3 separate regions of the Homo sapiens genome follow, and all the other regions are linked to region 1. The links come from fine-mapping of genetic effects on gene expression. A gene starts in region 1. Each other region holds a variant in brackets. All regions are shown on one strand. Distances are from middle to middle. Region 1 holds the start of LAMP5 (lysosomal associated membrane protein family member 5). Region 2 has its middle 23 kb from the start of LAMP5. Region 3 overlaps PAK5 (p21 (RAC1) activated kinase 5).

The links. PIP is the estimated chance that this variant, and not a neighbour inherited with it, causes the effect.
Region 2: its variant is the best candidate, but not a certain one, in a credible set for the expression of LAMP5 in whole blood (TOPMed, PIP 0.70).
Region 3: its variant is the best candidate, but not a certain one, in a credible set for the expression of LAMP5 in whole blood (INTERVAL, PIP 0.81).

What each region holds. Positions count from the first base shown.
Region 1 is chr20:9,510,204-9,518,390 of GRCh38, reverse strand. LAMP5 (lysosomal associated membrane protein family member 5) reads right to left here and starts at 3,801. Exons shown (of 6, transcript NM_012261.4): 1 at 3,475-3,801; 2 at 2,766-2,938; 3 at 2,260-2,391; 4 at 2,030-2,135; 5 at 163-351. The coding sequence starts at 3,538. LAMP5-AS1 (LAMP5 antisense RNA 1) reads left to right here and starts at 3,393. Exons shown (of 5, transcript NR_109957.1): 1 at 3,393-3,627. RefSeq lists enhancers at 2,282-2,866, 7,185-7,234.
Region 2 is chr20:9,487,003-9,495,189 of GRCh38, reverse strand. No RefSeq gene overlaps it. Among named protein-coding and RNA genes, the nearest start is that of LAMP5, 23 kb to the left of the region's middle. The variant G/A (reference allele first, on the strand shown) is at 4,898.
Region 3 is chr20:9,536,342-9,544,528 of GRCh38, reverse strand. PAK5 (p21 (RAC1) activated kinase 5) reads left to right here. Exons shown (of 10, transcript NM_177990.4): 8 at 35-160; 9 at 1,809-1,943; 10 at 4,912-7,159. The coding sequence ends at 5,067. Among named protein-coding and RNA genes, the nearest start is that of LAMP5-AS1, 25 kb to the right of the region's middle. The variant A/T (reference allele first, on the strand shown) is at 4,418.

The DNA.
Region 1 (8,187 bases):
CTTACTGCTTTTTTAGTCTTTGAAAATTATTAAAGAGGCAGGCAGTGTCATTTCAACCTAGAGGAAATCCAAGTGGTAACATCCTGGGGCCCTGGTAGGTCCCTCTCTCATCCTTCCTGAAATAAACTAGGTCTTCTTCCCCTCCATCCCCCAACAACTTACCTTCACTGAAGACAAAATCTGAGATAATGTCAAAAGGTTGGATGTGGACCGCAGACAGGATCATGGTGACCGTCTTCTGCGGATCACTAGAGGCCAGTGAAATGGTTTGTTGAGCTTGACACTCATAGGACTTCCCAGCGGGGGTGACCAAGGCAGAGAGGTGGTGCGAGTTGGCTGTGTGCTTCCCAGCTACAGCAAGAGCCCAGAGCAATAGTTAGAACCCTCATTGTTCCTAACCTAATGTGCCAGAGAGCTGGCTATTGCCTCTCAGTTCCAGACACCACACCCCTCCTGTCCTCTCTGTTCCCTTGCCAGGGCTAGGGCTCTACAAATGGCATCAAGTGGTGATGAAGGACAAACACACCCATTATCTTGAGAGCCAGGGCTCTTTCAATATTAATTTGGAACTCCTTTTTTGAAGAGGAGAATGATACTTAAAAACCCAACCCTTGTTACTGTATAAAACCTAGGCTGGGCATGGTGGATCCTGCCTGTAATCCCAAAACTTTCAGAGGTCAAGGTGGGAGGATCGTTTGAGCCCAAGATTTCTAGACCAGCCTGAGCAACATAGTGAGACTCTGTCTCTACAAATACACACACACACACATACATTTACAAAATTAGTCTGGCATGGTGACACATGCCTGTAGTCCCAGCTACTGGGGAAACTGGGGTGGGAGAATCTCTTGAGCCCAGTAGCTTACTCCAGGCTGTGGTGATCTATGGTGGTGCCACTGCCCTCCACCCTGGTGGACAGAGTGAGACCGCACTTCAAAAAAGAAAAAAAAAATCCCTAATAATGGAGATTCCAAAGACACAGAAGGAACAGTGACTTGGTTTTCCACATTTCACACGGGCCTGGCAAAGAATAAAACATCTTCCTCAACAAAGCCGGACAGATTGCTGGTCCTCTGGATGCTTGTCCTTACACACATACATCCCCTCTGAAGGTCTGCCTCCCATTGCTCTTTTTCTGACCTAAGTTTGATTTTTCCTTTTTCCTTTTTGGTCTAATTTAACTGGGGGACATCTTGCATCTAAACTTTGATGAAAAAGAAAAAATCCTCCTTTTACTGTGATAACAAAAAGGGGTGAAAAGGGAAAGATGACACATGTATTTTTATGTATTCAATAAAAATCCTTTCCCAACTCAGGTGCCTGGGTGATGAAGGGCCTCATTATGAGTGAAATAGACAACTTATAAAGAATAAAATAAATTTAAATGTGGTCTTTGACGGTGTCTGCAGATAGGAATATTGTTATTTGGGGGATGAACGCTCGTTTTGCCGAGGAGGATCTGGCTGAGTTGTCGGAGGGATGGGCCAGAAACGCTAGTAAATTATACATGGTGCAGAATCCACTGTCAGGTAGCTGCAGTCGATGACTGAATATCCCGTGCGAGCCATGCTGCCATGCGCAAAAAGACACTGAAGGCCATCACATCCTGACTGAAAAGGAAAGTCGCACTGCCCCCTTGCAGTTTTAGCGCATAAGAAACAAAACCAGGATGCGGAAGAAAATTAAAATGCAGCTTTGCCCTTCTCCGTGGTCCTTCAAAGGCCAAATCATAAGAGGTCGTTTTGAAGCACCAGGGAACGACAGGCCTTCAAGGGACTTCTTATCTAGGATCAGGCCACGGGTGACGTTTGGGTCCCCACGCCTGCGGTTCCTGGCGGATCTACAAGGCCTGAGACCCAGAAGACTCATGGGCGCTCCCGCCTCTTCCGCCCTAAAGAGCAAGCCGAGGGAAGACTTGGCCTGGGACCTCAAAGCGTGGGACGGTTTCCAAAACCTTGAGGAATTCTCTCTCCAAGCCTGTTCTGCGAGTTCCCAGGCTCCCTCCCCAGCCATGCCAGCCTCCACTCACCACTGACTGCGTCTTTGAAGTGGGTTTTCTCCGAGGAGTCGTAGACAAACTGCACTTTGCTCAGCCTCCAAGTCGCCTCAGGTCCCTTGGACATGTTGTGGCTTTCCTGTTGAGCCGGGGAGGTGCGCTTCAATCGTCCCCGCAGCGTCTGGGTTCTTAAACCTAGGGGCCGCCACTTCCCACACCCACGCGGAGCCTGCGGCCCCTCTGCCCGCTGGGCTCGGAGTTACCTTTACAAAGAGCATTTTGAGTGCATATGCGCGATCCACCCAGAACACTTGCAGCTCCGACTGGCTGTGGCCACAGCGGCCCTTCACCTCAGCTCCCCGGGTCAATGCGATATCGGCCTGTTCTGTGATCAGCTGGGAACACAGACGCCCCGCGCCCCCTCAGCTCGCCCGGCCCCGGGGCGGGGGCTGTAAAGGGCGGCGCGTCCAAACTCTGGGTTGCACGCTTGGGCGCTCCTTTGCGCGCGCGCATCCCAGGTTCCGGGAACATGCGGTTAGATGCTCTACGTGCAGCCCCGATAGGGAAGCGGAGAGAAGGGGGTTTACTTTCAAAGCAGGCAGGGGAACAGAAGGCATTACAAGCTGGAATCCCCATGCAGCATTCGGGAGCAGCCTGCCGGGGTGTGGGAAAGAAGGCGGGCAACCCAGGTCTTCGAAGAGCCTTGAGGAAGGGTGCCCTTCGCCCTGGAGCCCTAGGAGCAAGCTGAGGGGGGGGAAAGATTCCTTACATCTACGTAGTTGCTGGCCCACACATCATAAGGTACAATAAATTTGGCTGCAAACTCTGCCATGAGACACGTCGTCCCATTTTCCCGCACCACAAATATATCTTTTTCAGGGTTAGTGGAAAGGCCTGAGAGATTTTCCACTTCTTGTTCTGCCATGATTTGAGCCATTGTATCTGCGGAACAAACAAAACAATTCCATCAGTTCAGGGCTCAGCCCACGCGTCTCGGGCGCTAGGGTGGGGAGACAGTGCTCTGCAGGCTTTGGAGTGACAAAGTTCTCTGCCAGCAGCTGTGCGCTCTACGAGCCGTTTCTCTAACCCGGGTCTAACAAGCCTCATTCCTTCGCTGTTAATTTATAATGAAAATACAGTTAAAAAAATTAAAAATCCTGACTTTGTTTGTAATATAGCTGGCTGTTTTCTACATCTTGGGATTTTAAAGTAAATATTTCTTGCCAATGCTCTGACCTCACGAAGCTGGCCTGTCTAGGCTCTGTCTGGAATATGCCACAGAGGTGTATGGCTCTCAGGGGAATTCCCTGCCACCGGCGAGGAAGGCCCTCCCTCCTCCCCTAAAAGAAAAAAAGAAAAAACACCGCAAAACATTAAGGGCCATATTTTTTATCTCAAGCTAATTGACTTTACTTTGCCGGCTCTGTTCTCTGCAAAGAGTGCCCGTCCTCTCTCCCAGTCGCCAAATCGCTACTCACGGAACAACATCAGGAGAACTCGAAGTCTGTCGATGCTGGGGACCCCTCTTCCTTGGAGATCCATACTCGCAGTGCCCCGAATGAGGCCGGCTGTGCTGCTGCAGAGGCCGCCAGAGAGGGAATCCCTCAAAGTCGCCGCTGGAGTGGGCCGGGGTGAGCGAGAGGCGGGGGACAGAGAAGGGGGAGGGAGGGAGCGCGTATTCTGTGAGCGCCTAGCTAGGACTCGGTGTCGAGCGCGGCACCGACAGCTGCTGGCAGAGCAAATCGGCTCACTGCGGAGGAAAGGACCGCACGGCGGTCCACGGCTGCGAGTGCTGAAAGCAATCCGATTGTGTGGCAGGAGTGGCTGTGGCTTGGCTTGTGCGGAGGGCCAATGAGATCTGGGGGGACTAAACTTCTCCCTGGGTCTGTTTCCTGTTCTGCAACTGCATCCGCAAAGATGAGTCTGTTCTGAGAAACTTAATACCACCCTCAGCCTTATTAAATCTCCTTACCAGGTACAGTTATTAAGTGGTGTAGATACCTTATCACTGGAGTACTGTCTTCTGAAAACGCATCTGGTTCCCGAAAGAAAACGGTGGAGCAAAAATTGTTGCTGATTCGGGGGAGGAGGGCTATGCAGGAATAGAGAAGGGAAAATGCTATGGCAACAGTTTCCTGAATTTGGAGACATCCCCTTCTCTCCCCTGCTCTCAATGAGCTCATGGGTTTAAAGTTAAATTGACGCCTCCTCGAACGAGGCCATCAGACAATGCAGTAGCTCCATGTGGGCTTATTTTCCTGTGAATTTTGCTCCCGGGTGCATGAGGACTCTGAACTCTGGGGTCACCTACCCTCCCGCATTATACTGTGACCACTCTGCCAAAAAGGGATGCAAGCAAATCAGAAGTTTTTGAGAGTTATCTAGTGTCTCCTAGGACAGAAATTTTAGAATTATGCCCTAAGTAATGTCACATAGTTATGTAAGAAAAACACACACTGATATTACTCTAAAGCCTGTAGTGGAACAGAAGAACAAATACTACTGGGCTAATTCCTGTATTTACATATTTGGTAGCTTGCTTATTTTTTATTTTTGCTCTGTAAATCAGAATACAGCTTTCAAAAATACACATGCAGTCCTCATCAATTGTAGTGATGTCCAAATATTTTATTCCTTAGAAGATATTTCATAATGCAAATAAATGTTGCATCAGTAATATAATGTTATAAAACAATGTCATATTAAAGGGAAAATTGCAAAGTATTTCACCTGCATTATCTAATTTGATTCTCCCCAATCTTAGAGGGTAGGCAAGGAAAGATATGAGTTACTGTGGTTTTACATACCCCAAAACTGAGGCTCAAATAAATTAAATGACCTTCCCAAATGTCACATGGTCAGTTAGAATTAAAATACAAAAATCACATGCTTTAACTCTGTGAGATTATCTTCATTTCTCCTTATATAATATTTTTACTCCATATTTTGACTTCCATAAAAATCTATATTCAATATCAAATAATAATCTGAAATCTGAAATCTCTATCATTAATTCACATTCTTCAAATTTATAGAATGCTGTTTTAAGTATAATCACATTCTGACATATCTGCCACAAAGTATCTATATAATGTTTTTGGCTTTCAAACATATTCCTATATCAATCATTAGATCACTAGCAATTCAAAGTATAAAGTAATATTAAAATTGACATTATATTTTGACATCTTGACTTTTATGTTTGTAGTTCAGTATTTCATCCAAACATTTCTCAAGAACTTTACAAAGATGATTATATATAGAAGAATTGATGCAAATTTTACAGAACTTAACAGAAATGATTTTATACAGAAGATTGATAAAACGTCAGTTCTCATCAGTTGAAAGTGGAAGAGATAACATTTGTATGTGTTACATTTTTTCATGTTAGCAATTATTATTAAACACTTATTTTCCTGTAGTACTGTAAAACTGGAAAACAATGAGACATGTAATAAAGTATTTATTCTCTCTCTCTCTCTCTCTCTCCAGTATTTTATGAGGACAGAAATGAGTAGATTTCAGTCCAGGATTCACTACTTATTATTTTTGTGACCTTCTGAAGATTTTATTTGTTCTCATCTGAAAAATTGGGAAAATAACTCAGGGGATGGCTAGTTAAACCAAATGGGCCAATGAGTATAAATAAACAAAGTACAAATAGATCCATAAACATTAACCGAATACTTACTACTTCCAGTATGCTTGATGCTTTGAAAACCAAAAGATATTTATCATTACACAAGTAGGAGAGACACCTATAAAAGATTTTGACAATTTCTCTTGCAGTATGTTATTGCAGATATCTTCACTATATAAGTTGTTAAAAGATCAACTGAATTAATTCATGATTATCTGCCTTAATAATAAAAGATTAGGTGAGTAGTAGCATTGGTCATTGATCTTAAAATGTAGTAGTTGATTTACAAATGAGATGGTTGTTCCTTTGAAAATTATACCTGATATAAATGATCTCTTTGTTGACACTGGAGAGTGTACCCTAGAGTACTCAAATGGGTTGAAAGAAGAAAGAAAGCAATTTTAACTCTTTTTTTCTGGGGGGATTATTTTCAAAGCACAATCAGTTTAATGACTTTTTTAATATTTAATCTTAAACATGGCTAACAAATGCCCATTAATTTATCATCTTATCCACTGTGATACATTGCAATAGGAGTTAGGTCATTATACCTACAACTTTCACCTACATTAATTAAATATCTTTCTAATCATTCTGGAAAAAAACTCTTTGGTTCTCTAAAATAAGCAAAGAAGTGATCAAGGAGCAAAATTTGCCATTAAATTGCATTTTAATATATTAACAATGTTCCCCAGAATTTGCTCTACTTTTCATTTCTCAAGTCTAAAAGATGGTAGGAGAAATTGACATAAATATGTACACCTGTGTGGGTGGTAACTGTGTCAATTTTTATTATTGCTGCTGGTGGTCAGTAGAAACTGTTAGGGTGCAGTGTGACCTAAACACACTGGATTTGGGATCTCCTCTAGATCTTCTAGGTCCTTCAAAGGCTGTTTTTCAATTCATATGGATACTTACTGAATTAGCCTTTATGAATCTCATGCCATTGAGTGGTTGCTGTTTTATAAAAGGGCAAGAAGAGGCCCTTGCATAGAACTTTCAATTTGGATGAGAAGAATTTACATAAAGATTCCAGTTAGCCTAGCACAGTGTCTGCATAAATGTTCAGGGGGAAAAAAAAGTAAGACAGGCATCCCAGGTGGGAGAGTGGTTGAAATTGATGAAAAAAGGTCTCTTGGAGAAGGTGAGTCTTGAAAGAAGTTGACAAACTGATGTAGGGTGGAAGGAAGGATACGGATGGAAGAAATATCTATTGAATAGGGAATCAATGCAAAGATGTAACTCTTCATCCATCCATATTTATCCATTTGCAATAAAAAGCAAATTAGGCCGTAAATCAACAATGCCTTATGTACTATAGAACCCCTATTTCATTTCCGTATTTGATAATTTACCCACATATGGCATATGCAAAAGAATGGCCTATGCAAAATTTATTCTAAATAAAATTAAACTTTTTAAGTTGTTAGGGGCATCTTTTCATACTTGGTTGTGCAAGCAATTGACTTGTATTTGTAGAATCAAGAAACAAAACTATGAAAATTAGTGAACAATACTAATAAGAAAAGCGTATTTATAGCTTCAAAAGGAAAAGGCTGGGCTTTGTTGCAGCTGAAATTTGGTTTATTGAGGTTTCAGTTCACTTTACAGTAAAGTGTAAAAATGTACTCCTTGCTCTGTTGTTCCCACAGCCACCAAGCCATCCCTCTGCAACCCACACACAGACAACGGACGCACACCCGAATAACAGAAGCAGAAATAATTTAAACAAACAAGATGCATGCAGCTGTTAAGCCAGACTTTCTACTCACCAAAACTTTTCTTGTGTTCAGCTTATCATAGAACAATTAATTCATTTAGTCATTGCCTTCAAAGACCTTCGCAACCCTTTCTAGGATCTAAACTCTTGTGGGACAGAAACTGAAAAATAAATGTATGCACAAGAATTATTTTTCAGTTTCTATCCCACAAGGGTTTAGATCCAGAGCAAAGAGTACAAAAATAAGTGTGCGCATGAGCAATGTATGCACAAGAATATTTCGCACATACATTGCTAAGCCCTAGAATATTTGGAAAGAATCAGAAAATTGAGTTTAGGCTCCAATGCACTCAGTCTGCATGCCCTTGGTGTAATTTTCCTCATCCTAGTGCTTCTTTGGTGTCTCCTGCATCTACTCTAATGAAACAATGGTTATTTCTGCAATAACGGTAACCAGTGGAGGAAACAAACCACCAGAATAACGGCCTTTTTATTGGCTATGTTCACACTAAGTCCTGAAAAAAATACCATTTATGAGTTCATTTAGAAGAATTGCCTTCAGCATGGGGCAATATAGAGAACTGCATCCTTATAGCAAACCCTAAATAAGTAAATGGTGAGGGGCCAGGTAATCATTCCTCAAAATTTCAGTAGCAAATAAATCATTTTTGTCTTTTGAATCCGTGATTAGTTAACTGTTCTGGTCAGTCTTACATTTTTGGTCAGTGATACACAACTCACTCTGCTATCTCGGGAGGGAGGAAAACCTTGTTAACTTCTGGGCAGGGCACCTTTCTGTAAGGTTGAATTAAAACTCATTTGAGGATTTTA
Region 2 (8,187 bases), 23 kb after region 1:
GAGTCTGTGAGTCTGGGCTGACCTTATGACTTAATTTGACCAATGGCATAGACCAATGGAATATCATGGCCTAGGCTTTAAGAATTGATTCTGGCAGTTTCCTTTGTTGCTCTCTTGAGATTCAGCGTCCAGGTAAAGAAACTTGAACTTGACCACTAAATGTGGAGAGATATGTGGAGAGGGAGCGAGCAGCCCAGGCAGACATCCCAACTGGGGCACCAGATGTGTCAGGAAAACCATGTTGGACATTTCAGCCCCAGCTGGGTTCCCAACCAAGCACAGCCATACAAGCGACCCCAGTCAATACCAAGTGGAGCAGAAGAACTAGCCAGCTGAGGTCAGCCAACCTAGAGCACCATGAGAAATAATGAATTGTTGTTGCTTCAAGCACTCAGTTTTGGGATAGTTTGTTATGCAACAATAGATAACTGGAATAAAGGGCAGAATCACATGAAGGTTTATAGGCTTAGGAAAGGAGTTTGGCCTTTATTTTTAGTGGAGAGGGAAGTATTATGGGATTTTAAGCAGATGACCTGCACAATCAGTCTGATTTATACTTTAAGAAGATCACTCTTCTACTGCGTGCAGAGAGGATTGCACGAGCTCAAGAGTGGATGCAAATGAAACCAGGAAGCTGTTAGAGTGGTCAAAGCAAGAGATGACATTGGTTACAACCAGGGTGGTTATCTCAGTAGTGTTGAGAAGTGATTCCATTTCAGAAATATGCTGGAGGAGGAGCTGATAATACTTATCGATTATACCAAAGGGACAAGAGAAAGCCATTAATCGAAGATAATCCTGAGAGTTTTAACCTGAGGCTGGGAAGGAGCAGGCAAGAAACCCAGGAATTCTAATTTGAATAACTTAAGTTTGAAATGCCCATTAAATTTCCAACGGCAGCTTTGAGTATTTGAGCATCAACAGGGAGGTCATTGCTGGATGTATAAACCTGAGACTCTGATTACCAAGGATCCTTCTTGCCTCTTGAAAGTTGGGTGTGTTGCTTTATCCTTGCTCTTAGAGTGGGGTCCATTTTCTCATACAAATGCAAAATATCACTGAACCCAAATATTAGACTTTTACATTAAGAAGAAAATTTAGAAAGGCACACTGTCTTTGAGACAGAGTCTCATGATTTTCTTGGCACCCGGCATGCATATCTGCTAGACTTGGGATGATTAATGGACAAGATTGTTTGTGACCCACTTATGGGCTGTTTCTTCCATTATAAAGCCTTTGAAATCTGGAAAGCTGGCTGGATTCAGTTTCAACTGGAAATGCACCATCCTTTTTTTTGTTGTTAATCATTAAACAAAGCCCACAATGCAGTCATATCTTTAGAGGTTTTATTGTTACTAAAATATAGCACACATTACGGTATTTGTGTCTTTCATGTTTTCTGTCCTAATGGCTAGAATATCTAAGATGGGAAATAATAATGCAGAGCTGGTTAGTTCTCACTGACTTTGATAGTTAATTTTGATAATTCAAGAGTACCTTATTTTAGATTATTCGGGACTTTTGTTGTTTCTATTTCTTGCGAATAACGTCCATACCGGAGGATAGCCAGAGAAAAAGAAAAGAGGAAGCAAATAACTCTTAATATTTTTTCCTTATCAAATAATCCACTAAGAAAATTTCAGGATGTGTCTTTTTGCATAACATTGAGGAGTCTGCCATCTAACAGGAAAGTTAAGGCACATATATGAACATCGGGCACACTCCAGCAGCTGGAAGTATCATTTTTTTAAACAAAGTAAGTCTACTTTGAATGTTCTCTCCCAATGCTGCTAACTCTCCAAAGTTGAAGGGGAGCCCACTGCAGTAGACACTTTTGGTGCCCCACTCATATTCCCTTGTCTCCTCAACCTCCCATAGCTTTAGTACTATCTCATTCATGCCTAAGACTTCCTGCCTCTGGCACATGCAGCTCTCTCCCTGAGGGCTTCTCTGGCTCCAGGAGCTTGCTTGGCCCATGAGGGGCTGGCTGGAGCTAGCTACTAGGGAGTCACTACCCTCAAGAAAAACTCCCATCCAAAGAGAAGGGAATGCTGATGGATAAATACCCCTTGTCTCCACCCTGGTGGGACAATTCTGAGGTGTGTGCTACACCATCCTGCCGAATATCTAGGGGGATTGTGCCCATCGCCCACAGAGGTAACATTCTCCGTAATTATTCCTTTATTGTTTTACTTCCATCCCCCAAACCCTCATTCTATTTCCTGGGATCACCTCCAGATAAAATACTTGCACTCAAATTTTTGTCCGAGGCTCTACTTTTTGCAGAACACACACTGTGACATCCCGCACCATTTGTCTTCTTCTTCAGAACCACACAATCACACTACGGCTTTTAAACACCTGGGGAGTGGGGGAGGTGCCCACTCCTCAGTCCCAGAGGTCACTGTAGCCATTGTCTCCTGTCCAACCCAGCAAGGGCAAGCGTGCCGGGCCCAAGGAAGCCTTCATTCTTGGCAGCTCTCTTTGTCTGCAAAGGTTCCAAAAGCAGCAGAAACCAAGGCTTGGAATCAGTCAGGCAGCAGAACCATCTAAGGTTCTGCCACTTCCTGGCCCTGGACTTCAGAAACCCTGTGTCTTTGAGGGCTCCAAGGAGACTTTGTTGCTTCTCCTCCCCGAAAGCTAGAGTTGGGTTCCTGCCACTCTGCCTCTGCACCCCCATCCCTCCCCTCTTCTCTACTCTAGGGTAAATGGGCTAGACTGAAGGCTGGCAAACTTTCCTTGCAAAGGGCCAGAGAGCAAACATTTTAGACGTTGCAGGTCATATGGTCTTTGTTAGAAATCTTTGACCCTGTTGTCATAACGCAAATGCAACTAGAGGTCATATTTAAGTGGATGAGCATGTCAGTGTTCCAGTACAATTTTTTTATGGACACTGAAATTTGAATTTCATATAATTTTTATGAATCACCAAATATTTTTCTTTTAACATTTTTCCAACCACAGAAACATAAAACCCATTCTTATCTCATGAGCCATATAAAAACGGGTGAGAGACCAGATTTGGCCAGTGGAATATATAGTTTCCTGACTCGTAGACTAGACTTTCAAAAGCAAAGTTCTGTTTAGATTTTATTACCCTGCTGAACTCCCTTTTTGATTGGCATTCTTTAAACCAAATCTAATTAATATTGGGAATGCATGGGATTTATCAAATCCTGAGGTATTATCAACAAATAAATCCTTCTAGTGCAGGGATCATGTTTCTTTGCATTTTCCTCACAGCACCTTGTATGATGGTATCCATAAATTAATTTATAACAGCACCAAAAGCAGGGAGTTTATTATTTGTTCATTTATTTTATTTTATTTTATTTTGAGACCGAGTTTCACTCTGTCACCCAAGCTGGAGTGCAATAGCATGATCTTGGCTCACTGCAACCTCCGCTTCCAGGGGTCAAGCGATTCTCCTGCCTCAGCCTCCTGAGTAGCTAGGATTACAGTCGCCCACCACCATGAGCTGCTAATTTTTTTTTTTTTTTTTTTTAAGTAGAGACGGGGTTTCACCATGTTGGTCAGGCTGTATTATTTGTTCTTTACTGTGCTAAGTGCTGTACTGAGGGGCTCACTCACTCATTTCCTCATTTGAAGCAGAAATGATAAAAACTGTACTAATAGGTTGCCATGACAATGAAATGACATTGTGCCTTTGACAAATGCTCTTTGTTCATTGTAAACTGTCAGGTGGTTTTGTGTTCATGGTTTTTAAGAATAGGATGTGATGATCTCTATGACAGTGTGGTGGTTCTACAGAGAACAGAAATTTGGACCCAGGAGAATAAATGGGTTCTGTTTTTTAATCTCCATGGTGTTGCTTTGTGACCTCAGATTCAACATTTGTACAATGGTGATAAGGTTCTCCATTTGCCTGTAACATGAAAATTAAATGAGAGAGCTCACTAAATGCTATAAACATGTTAGATTTAACTTTAACATTCGGAGTCTGTGCTATGAGTGTGTGTGTGTGTGCGCGTGTGTGTGTGTGTGTGTGTGTGTGCGTGCATGTGGTGTTTAGGCAGAAATCTAAGACGGCCCCCAATACTCTCATCTCCTTGTACATGTACTCTGAATAACCCCTTCCCATGAAGCATGGGCAGAACCGTGAATCTGATAAATTTAACTTCCTTGATTAGGTTGCATTACCTGAAATGGGGGAATTTTGCAGATGTAATTAATTTAGCAGATATAATAAGTCAAACCAGTTGACTTTGAGGTAATCAAAAGGGAGATTATCCTGGTAGGGGTGACCTAATCAAGTGGGTCCTTAAAAGGAACTGCTAGATCCTTCCTGAAAGAGGAATGCTAAAAGAGATTCTGCTGCTGGCTTTGAATGGGTAGGCTGTCATGTTGTAAAGAGGACCTATATATACGGCCTTGTGACAAGGAACTAGGCAGCTTCTAGGAGCTGAGAACTATCCTTGATCAACCAACAGCCAGCATGGGAGTGCGGATTTGAATCATATAACTGCGAATAACTGAATTCTGAAAATAACTACTTGAACCTGGAAGTGAATCCTGAGCCTCAGATGAGAACACAGCCTAGCTGACGCTTCACTTTAGTCCTGTGAGATTCTGAGCAGAGAATCCAGCCACACTGTGCCCAGACCTTTGACCTACAGAATTGTGAGATAGTAAGTGGGTTTGCAGTAACTCTGTGGTCATTTGTTATGCAGTAATAGAAGAGGAATACAATGTGAACTTGCAATCTACATGAGGTGATAAGAATAAGTGTGTAAAAGACAAAAGTCTAGAACTAATGGCTAACAGACGTGGTCTGGGTCATAAATTCTGCATTCCATTGTGAGTAGGGAAGAATTTGGAAGGGTGTCATGGGATGGAAGCATCATAGACAAAAGATTCCTGAGATCCATCTTTTCTC[G/A]TGAAAGGAAGAAAAGAAAGCATTTTGTTAGATAAGGTGGGACTGGAGCATGGGAAGTTTGTGCCTCCACATAGTTTGAGGTCATGAAGACAAAGACAAGCGAGTGTTTCAAGAATGGGGCAATGGTTGACTGTGTCAAACATTGCAGAGAGGTTTTGATGAGCATGTAGAAGAGACACATGGGATTTGGCTAGGTGAAGGTCATCCACATCTTAAGCAATGCCAATGGACATGATGGGAGTTTAACAGTGAGTTTACCTCCACATTTGTAATCCATTGATATTTGACAAGGATGCCAAGACAATTTGATTGAGAAAAAGTTTTTTCAACAGAGGCTCGGTAGATCTCTAGAACTTATGTAAAAACAAAAACAAAAACAAATGGTTCTGGGACAACTAGCTATCCATATACAAAAGAATGGCATTCACCCTTACAGTAGATATAAAAAGAATTCATAACGGATCAAAGACCTACATGTAAGAGATTAAACTATACAACTCTTAAAAGAAAGCAGGCATAAATCTCAGTGACCATGGATGAAGCAATGGTTTCTTAAATATGACACCAAGAGCACAAGCAACAAAAGAGAAAAATAGACAAATTGAACTTCATCAAAATTTAAATTTTTGTGTTTCAAAAGACACCATGAAGAAGGTGAAAAGGCAACCCACAGAATGAGAGAAAAATTTTGCAAATTATATATCTGAAAAAGGACTAGTATCTAAAATGTGTAAAGAACTCCTACAACTCAGTAATAAAAAGACAACACAATTTAAAATGAGCAAAGGTTCTGAGATATATATTTCTACAAAAAAAGATATACAACTTGCCAATAAGCACATGAAAAGATGCTTAATACCATTAAGGATCAGGGAAGTGAAAGTCGAAACCATAATAAGATACCAACGACACACACACTAGGATGACTATAATAAAAAAGGTAATAAGTATTGACAAAGATGTAGAGAACTCAGAATCTTCATACACTGCTGGTGGAAGTGTGAAATGACGCAGCCACTTTGGGAGACAGTCTGGCAGTTCTTCAAAGAGTTAAACGTAGAGTTACCATGTGACCCAGCAATTCTACTCCTAGGTATATACCCAAGAGAAAAGAAAACATACATCCACACAGAAACTTGTATGTGAATGTTCATAGCAACATTATTCATAATAGCCCCAAATCAGAAACAACCCAAATATCTATTAACTGATAAATGAATAAATAAAATGTATTATCTTCCTTTAAAGCTTGGTATACTGAAAAAGTTGGAATTTGTCTCTTCAGAGGTATCTAATGAATATTACTCTATTAAACATCTTATTGAAATGAACTTTGCTAACCAATTATTAAAAGTATATCAATCTAATACATTTTTCCAAATATTTAAAATCATACCTTTATATATCATGCAAAAATAATGACATGATATTATTTTAAAATTCCTAAAAGAGTTTCTATAGAGTATGTATTAAGATGAAGAGGAGTTCTCAGCTAAAAAGGTAAACACAGCCACAAATGATCTTCAAAATACCACTCTTTGAACACTTAGGATATGCCTGGAACTGTATGTATTAAATGATTCAAAAGCTAACTTGATTCTCACAGCAGCACCATGAGGTAGGTGGCATTACATCCATTCTACAGATGGAAAGCTCCAATTCTGCGGCATTAAGTAGGATGCCTGAAGTCCGCAGTTAGTGAATAGCGGAGTTAGGATCTAAGCTGTAGTCAGTGGGATCCCAAATTAGACTGTTAATTGCCACACTGACTTCTACAAGTAGAAAGTTTCATCTATCTCAGCTGATCCCAGTTGCACCCATTTCCATTTTGCTTTGCACTATCATTTAATGTTACTGCAGATCCCCTTGGGAGAATTTATGCCAAATTCATCATCTGGGTTCTCTTTAATCTGACAGCTGCCACCTTTCCTAAGTGGATATTTCTGCTATTTTTCTCGGGTGTGTCATTTCCTGTCCCTTGTGAGAGGCTCTCTCTTAAGTTACTCTTGTATTGTTTCAAATCATTTTCTGTTGCAGACTTGGAGAGTTGGCATGGAAAATGCTAGAAGGGAAGAATAAAGAGAGTCTATTCCACATCCAACTCTGCCTCCCTCACTCAGCACAGGCTTTTGAGAGGAGTAGAATAGTTTCCTTGTGGAGCAGCAAAGCCTGCTGAATTAATTTTATGCTCAAAACTCTTCTGAGTAATTATGCCTCTTCGATGGTTTCCACTAGGCAACAGGCTTCAGAAGTAAACTTTGTTATTTTGGCATCATCCCTATTGGTCTTCTGAATGTGTATATGTATTTTTGTATACTAAATTATATTTCATTCCCCCCATTCTCTTTATACCATGAACATATATCTATTGCTATATTTTTAAAACATGGGTTTAATTGAGAATTATACATGCAATGGAAGACACAAATCTTAGGTGTATTCCCTGATTCCCTGATCAATGTTTACCTGTATAAACACCCATGTAACCTCCACGCAGCGTAAGTTATAGACCAGCAGTTCTCAAAATCTTTGGCCTCAGGGATTCCTTAACACTCTTAATATTTTTAAAAAACTCAGAGTTTGTTTATGTGAATTATATCTGTAAGCATTACTATGTTAAAAATTTGAAACAGGAATTTCAAAATATTTCTCAATTCAATAAAAATAACAAAACTGTCACTTGTTAATATATAACCAATATTGTACTATTACAATAACTTTTTTGTGAAACATAACTGTATTTTCTAAAAGTTGGTGGGAGGAGTGGCATTGTTTTACATTGTTGCAAATGTCTTTAACGTATGGCTTTACAGAAGTCATCTGAGTTCTAATGTCTTTTTCTTCATTCGGTCTGTTGTGATATGTCATTTTCACTGCAGTATATGAAGAAATCTGGCCTCCCACAGAGACGGATTTGGAAACAAGAGGACTACACAGACCCTCTGACAGTCTCTTGGGGGACACAATGGCTTGCCAAGGGATCCTTGATACACACTTCGAGAACCACTTGCATAGACCATCACCATCATCCTGGAAGGTTTTTTCAGAGAGGACCACTACTCTGACTTCCTTCAAGATTAGCATTGCCTTTCCTTGATCTTCATGTATGTGGAATCATAAGGTAAGTACTTTCATGTGTTCTACCCTGTGAATATACTACATTTCATCAATGCATCCTCCTATTGGTACACATCTGATTTGTTTCTAGCTTTTTATTATTATGAATAAAGAACATGCTTTTTGATGAACACATACACAATACACTCATTTCTTTTTTTCTTTTTTCTTCT
Region 3 (8,187 bases), 26 kb before region 1:
AATTGCTAGTTTGTTGCATTCCTTTCCTTTTCAGATAAAGTTGTCTGATTTTGGTTTCTGTGCTCAAGTTTCCAAAGAGGTGCCGAAGAGGAAATCATTGGTTGGCACTCCCTACTGGATGGCCCCTGAGGTGATTTCTAGGCTACCTTATGGGACAGAGGTAAGGGGGTCACAGTCATAGGCGTGGCAGGACTGGGGACAGGCTCAGGGACCCATTGGTTCTGAGATAGTTGGTGACCACAGGAGATGGGGGCAATGACTTTTAGCTCCACATTTGATCCCCACTCACTAGATGAGGCACAGAGTAGATAGGCTGTGGCAGGTGGGAGCCTGGCCACCCCTGGGGCAGATCACTGCAGTATTTATCCAAGGGCTGTTTATTGCAGTCCTACAGTGGACACTGTGGGAAAGTCACTCCAACTCTGATCCCACTCTCAGTAGCAGGCACACACACAAAGCAAGGCAATGCAACTTGCAAAGTGGCTGGAGACATGCAGATGAGCAGGCATGAGAATTCAGAGAAAGGAAAGAGGATCAAAGAAAGTGCCACAAAATAGAGGTGATATTTAAATGACCCACTGTTTTCAACACAGTTTACATCTCACAGTGAAGGACCTACACTGTTTTCTCATAGGAAAAAAATAATATGTGAATCATAGTCAAAAACATGGCACAATTTCTGTTTCCACTGGAATGAAAACAATCACTCTTAATCTTTTAAGAGGTAGGGCCTGGAAATGTGAAAATGCAGGGCCAGAGGAGTAGAGGAAGGGCCTTCTTGGGAGGTAATAGCATGGGTGGAAGCTTAGAGGCACATAAGGCTACATACAGATGGAAGCCAAGGGGTATGTTTCGGCTAGGCATAGTGTTTCCACACTTTATGGTGTGGATGGTGAATCTGGGAGAAGAGAAGCATGAGAAGACATGGCCGTGAGCTAAGGACATCAGCATAAGTTAAGGCAGAATCTTTCTCTTTCTCTTGTTTGCTTGACCTTGGATGAGTCCTCAACTTGTTTTTCTCACTGTGGTCCTGAGAGAGAAATTCTCGGTGAAGGTCACTGCAAGGGGTAATAATAGCAATACGTTCATCAGATAAGAGGTATAATGAGGCCCTAACAGGAAACTTTCCTAACAGGAAAGTGAGTGGGACTGGGAGTTTATAGCACAGTGATGGCTCCTCATTGTCTCGACTTCCCATTCTTTACTACTTGCTTGTCATCTCTTCCTTTTCTTTTCTCCAATCCCTGAAAATGCTTTTGTAAAGTGAGGTTTTGTGCATGCTGTTTTGAAATGATAATAAAAGGTAGTGGAAGGAAATCCCAAAGTAGGGGAGAAAAGAGCTATTTTTAAAAGCAAATTAATAAAAGAATCAGAATATATTCTGCATCCTGCAAGGTAGCCCTTTGCAGTTTGTTACAAATATGTCAAAACTTTCTTATTTGCTTATGGTTTAAATACAATTTTCTTCTCCATTTTCATAGCATTAAACCGGATGATTTTCTCATCTGCCCTGATAGACAGTTAACTACTAAAGTTTACAGAGTAAAAATGAAAGCACTAAACTTTAGAATGTTAAAATATTCATTTATGTCTGATGGGTGGAACCTTCACTGAAGTTGTCCATAAAAGGCAAAGACTGTTAGCAAAAACTCGGTAACCCAGCAGTTTAGCCTATAAATCTATATTGTAAATGTTGAGAGGTTACAAGTGCCATAGTCACTTGTGAATGAGTATGAGGTTCTGTGGACACACTTGACATTTCAGAATGTTCTCCTTGCCTGAGATAACCAGTAGGGTGTGCCTAACAGGTGGACATCTGGTCCCTCGGGATCATGGTGATAGAAATGATTGATGGCGAGCCCCCCTACTTCAATGAGCCTCCCCTCCAGGCGATGCGGAGGATCCGGGACAGTTTACCTCCAAGAGTGAAGGACCTACACAAGGTGAGAAACAGCAGCTGTTGCTAAAGTTCAGAATAGTTTTTGGATTTTCCTGTATCTCTCTGGTTTTTAAGACTGGCTTACCACATCCAGCAGGAAGATCCTGGTTTATGAGCATGGACTTTGGAAATAGTCACTTAGGTTTGAATCTCTGTTCTTCTATTCGTTTACTGGGCAAGTGACTCAGCCTTTCCTATGCCAAAGTTCTTCATCTGTAAAATGGGTTATGATTGGCCTGTATCCCAAAGGGTTGGTTAGAAGAGTAAATCAGGTGCTCTATGCCATACTCATTCATTCAGCATCTATTACATGCTGGGGACATCTAATAGCTTGGGATGTCACCGTGCATGACCCCAGCTTTTCTGACTCTGGGGTCTAGACTCTGCATTCTAGTTGGGGAAACAGATAGTAAACCATAAACAAACAAATAAATAAAATAATTTCAGAGTGTGGTACATACTATGAAAGAAAAACATACTGTGATGTGACAGAGTGTGCAGGAGAAGGGATTGAAAGCTGGTTGTATGAGTCTGTTTTTACACTACTATAAAGAAATACCCAAGACTGAGTAATTTACAAATAAAGAAGGTTTAATTAACTCACAGTTCCACATGCCTGGAGAGGCCTCAGGATACTTACAATCATGGCAGAAGGCGAAGGGGAAGCAAGGCATGTCTTACATGGTGGCAGGAGAGAGAGAGCGCACAGGGGAAATGCCAGACACTTATAAAACTATCAGCTCTCATGATAATTCCCTCACTATCTTGAGAATAACATGGGGTAAACTGCCCCCATGACCCAATTACCTTCCACCAAGTCCCTCCCTTGACATGTGAGGATTACAATATGAGGTGAGATTTGAGTGGGCACAGAGAGCCAAACCCTATCACTGATTTAAGCTGAAGAGTGAAGGAAGCCCTTTCTAGGGAGGGATCAAACGAGCTGGGACCTGAATAGGAAGAAGGTACCAGCCATGCAAAGATCTTGGAGAAAAAGGTCCCAGGCACGGGGAGCATCAAGTGGAAAGGCCTTAAGCCAAGAAAGAAGGCTTACATTGCTGGAGTAAAGTCAGAAAGGGGAAAAAGGTAGGTCTTGTCAGAGAGATGGGCAGGAGCTAGATTGTACAGGGCAATGAAGGTCATGGTTAATATAATGCATGTAAGAGACCGAGTGGGGTCTTTTCTGTTTTCCAAGGATTGCCAATTAGGACGAGCTCAGAAAATAATGATGCTTCATCCAAGAATCACCACTGTAGGAGCTGCCAGATTTCCAAAGGACTTGCTCAGAGGATCATTTCTGCAGGACTACTACTATAAACACTGGCCCCATACACACCTCTCTTCCTATCTTATGACAATAAAAGAGAGTGTGTGGCTGCCTTTTGGAGGAGAATTATTTGTAATGGTAATATCTCCTCCTTCCTCACCCCTAAATCTTAGGGAACAGCCCCAGTAGCATCACTCATATAGGTTGTGTGGACCTACAAAAACATAAACAAAAAAAGAGAGATTGAAATTTTTACTGGATTGGACTAAGTCTAAATAATGAAAAGTGGCTGGGTGTGGTGGCTCACGCCTGTAATCCCAGCACTCTGGAAGGCCGAGGTGGGCGGATCACGAGGTCAGGAGATGGAGACCATCCTGGCTAACACGGTGAAACCCCATCTCCACTAAAAATACAAAAAATTAGCCAAGCATGGTGGCGGGTGCCTGTAGTCCCAGCTACTCAGGAGGCTGAGGCAGGAGAATGGCGTGAACCTGGGAGGCAGAGCTTGCAGTGAGCCCAGATCGCACCACTGCACTCCAGCCTAGGTGACACAGCGAGACTACGTCTCCAAAAAAAAAAAAAAAAGTGACTAAAAATGTATCATATGAAAGTAGTCTCACACCCAGTGAGTGCCAATGTTCTTCAAAACCATGTACAAGAACAACTTTAATCCTAATGGTTTCAAAAAAACTGGAAACCAGTCCGAGGTTGTTTCCCAAATGGATAATGTGTGGTATAATTGGACAGTGAATACTACACAGTAATTTAAAAGATATAACTTTTGCCACACGTCGGAGATGAATCTCACAGATACAACACTGAGTGAAAGAAGCCAGATAGAGAAGAAATCAAATATATGACTCCATTTTGGTAAAGTACAAAAGTAAGCAAAACTAAGTTATGCTATAAATTAAAATAGTGGTGACCTTTTGCAGGGAGATAGGGGTTGGCAGGAAGGAAACCTAAAAGTAGCTTCCTAGAGTGGTAGAAAAGTTCTATATCTTGATAGGAGTGGAAAGTAAATAGGGGTAAATGTATGTAAAAATCCATTGAGCCACACTCTTAGTATTTGTGCAGCGGAACCTGGGCATGCTGGCACATGCTTGTACTCCCAGCTACTCAGGAGGCTGAGGTGGGAGGATCATTTGAGCACAGGAGTTTGAGCCTGGGCAACATAGTGAGACCTCATCTCTAAATATATACATAAAGTA[A/T]GATATACCTTTAAAAGGAAAATTACAAGACCTTCAAAGAAAAAAATGAGATGTGTTCGATATCCTTACAGAAGCTTGTTTCTCTTAAAGAAAGGGGTTCCACAGAGCCTGTGTGGTTGCAGTTGTTAGAAAAATAAAACGGCTCCCTGTTTATACTATGCTTCATCAAGCACGTGTGACCAGCACCTGCACATACTAAATATTTTGTAATAGCTGCTCTTATCACTGTGATTGCCACTGTTATTTTATGTAGTAAATAAGTTTTCATTCTTAGTTGAGCTGTCATTTACACCTATTATTTCACACTTGAAAAAGGTAAGGAAAACACGAAATGTTAACAAAGACAAGACATGCTTTTGCTTTCACAACATCTTTCTCCTTAAGGTAACTTTCTGGAATTTGAAGTTGTTGATAGGATGAATGGGGAAAACATTTTGGGGACTGGGTTAGGTGTCTGTGTTAGTCCTCAGATTGGTATCTGTGTGTTTTCACAGGTTTCTTCAGTGCTCCGGGGATTCCTAGACTTGATGTTGGTGAGGGAGCCCTCTCAGAGAGCAACAGCCCAGGAACTCCTCGGACATCCATTCTTAAAACTAGCAGGTCCACCGTCTTGCATCGTCCCCCTCATGAGACAATACAGGCATCACTGAGCAGAGGATTCGTGTAGGTGGCAAAGCTAGATGAGGACATGAGAATAATTCAGGAGAACAAAAGGAAACACAGAACATGCAAAAGGCCTGTGCATTCTAGACCAGCCAATTGGTGGGACAGCGTGATGACCGGCAGGGTTCAACAGACCAGGGCATCTTCTTGTGTCTTAAACAGGCATCTCTCCACTGACAGCCGGTGTGGTCACTTGGAGCACGGCTTTAATAAGTCATTATTATATTTTTCAGCCCTTCATCCAGCAAATCAGAAGGACTCAGTACAAACTCCGTTATGATATATCCTAGCCACATGCAGGGTAACATGTAGGATTTTCTATATTGAAAGAATACTTTTCTGGCAAAAAAAAAAAAAAAAGAAAGAAAGGAAAACAAAAAGCACTTTTTTCTTAATGGTAGCAGTATAATGTATTTTGCAACGAATTTGTAATTTTTCTGTACGATAGTTTTGATAATTTATAGTACTTTGATGTCATGTAGCCATTGTATCAGTTGAAGTAATACTTGTTTACTAGAGGAGTTTGAACAAAGCCTTTCCTACTTTTTTATCCCTTTAAGAGAACCAATGATTCTTTAGGAACTTTGAATACTGAATGACTCTCAATCACCGTCAGCTTTAGTAAAATCTCTTTCTTATCCTAACAAGTGTCTTATTTGGTGGAAGAAGAATTAAGAGTGATGGTGATGGTGTGCACGTTTCATTAATCCAACCAAAAATAATGAAATAAAATTTGAGCCACAGTATACCACTCCTTGGGATAAAGTTAAATATTTTTAAAGATCACATTTTCCATGAACGCCTCTAGTAGCAAACCATTCTTTTGCACACCACAATGTTTCCCTCAGTGCCCTTTCTCAAATGGGTACAATGTTCCCTTGTGGCCAAATTTCCCTCCCAGGGAGCAATTTCAGTGCTAGGATCATTGGATTCAGTTCCCAAAATAGAATGTTTCAGTGAGACCATGAGAATTCCAGGCTCACAAAGGGAGAGGAGAGAACAGGGCAAGACGTTTGGTTTCATTTGTCACCATTTTTAAAACTCTGTATGCTAGCACACCAAACTCTTGTCTATATTTACCTTTGTACCACAGTATTAATCGCTATTGTTCATGTATCGTGCTGGAAGTCTGAACTGACTCTAGAGGATGAATTAGCAAGAGGGTATTTTACCAGGTATGATCTGACTTCAGTTGTGCCCATGTTATAATGTGTTTCCGACATAGGAGAGTCGTGCTGCTGTCTAGATCTTCTTGAATGTTGATAAAAATGAATGACTACTACAATACATTTTGTGTTGCTTGTTGGATGAATTTGCATGTTAACTGTAGGCCAATATAGATTTGCCTTTAAAACTCTGGAAGAGCTACATAGTCATCATTAGTTTCTATTAATTATGCATCAGACAAAAGCCATTTGTTACCAAACTGGGAAAACAGAGGCTTTTCTTAACTATTTCACATACTGTAACAAATATGAATTTAAATTTGTGATAGCGCTCTGGTTGCTCTAAGCATAATTAAGAATTTTTGTAATTAATAGGTTGCTAATTATTTATCACTGCTAAAAAGGAAAAAAGGCATAAAATGACCTTCTACTGATTAGATTTTCAGTTTTCTTTCAAACTGGAAATGCCTCCATAAATATGATCTATGATTTTGCTTCATAAAACAGCAAATCAATGTTTTATGTAAAATATTAAAGCATTAATATAAATATGTGAGAATAAAAACAATCTAAATCCAGAAAATGGCAGTCCTAAATGTTCATGAGACAGATTGTATTAATTTAACCAGGACTATGTAGAAGTAGAAAGAAAAGAAAAAGAAAATCTTTTTTAAACCAGAATAAACATTAAAAACTATTGCAGAAAATAGTGGATTTTGGATTCCAAACATTTTCGACAGTGTAATGGAAATTTTTCTGTAATTTTCTTACCATCGGGTATTTTTTAAAGTATTCATTGAGTTTACCAAAAGTTACTGTAGCTTAAAAGGTTTTGTGAGCACTAACTATTGGCAGAAACTGCATTTGCAAATAAAAATAAATGTTTGCCTTTTCCCCATTGTGTTATTGGAAACAGTGATTTCTCAAATTTATTTTATTGAGTAACCAAGAATGATTTCTTTGTGATCTTGGGGAGTGCAAATGAGTTGGTACAAAGTTGTATGTAACATTGTGATGACATGACGTAAAGACAAATATATCCATCCCTAGGGATTGTAAAGAGTGTAAGATGGTGATGTCGATACCACTACTGAAAAAAAAATTACTAAATTCTGGAAGGCCACGTTCAAGGAAAGCCAGGTTCAGGGCTGAAGACTCTCATTCTACTTCCCTGTTCCAAAGATGCAAAACTGATCTGAGGGCTTTTTTAAAAATTAATTAATTAATTAATTATTATACCTTAAGTTCTGGGTTACATGTGCAGAACATGCAGTTTTGTTACATAGGTGTACACCTCTCGTGGTAGTTTGCTGCACCCATCAACCCATCACCTACATTAGATATTTCTCCTAATGTTATCTCTCCCCTAACCACCCACACCCTCACAGGCCCCAGTGTGTGACGTTCCCTTCCCTATGTCCATGTGTTCTCATTGTTCAACTCCCACTTATTAGTGAAAACATACGGTGTTTGGTTTTCTGTTCTTATGATAGTTTGCTGAGAATGATGGTTTCCAGCTTCATCCGTGTCCCTGCAAAGACATGAACTCATCTTTTTTTATGGCTGCATAGTATTCCATGGTGTATATGTGCCACATTTTCTTTATCCAGTCTATTATTGATGGACATTTGGGTTGGTTCTAAGTCTTTGCTATTGTGAATAGTGCCACAATAAACATACGTGTGCATGTGTATTTATAATAGAACCTGGATTCAAGAGGTCGTGTTGAGAGCTCTCTGGGAGCCTAGAAGATAATTTGGGCTCTCTCCTCCACTTTGGGAGACAAGGGGGACATTAACATTGATCTCGTGAAGCTGGAGGATGGGGGAACTTTTATATACACAGCCTATTTTCCATCCAGAAATGTTGGAAGGTAAAAACCCTCAGGAAGTAGCCTGAGCTAGCAGGATGAAAAAAAGGCATTGTATATCACATGTCAGG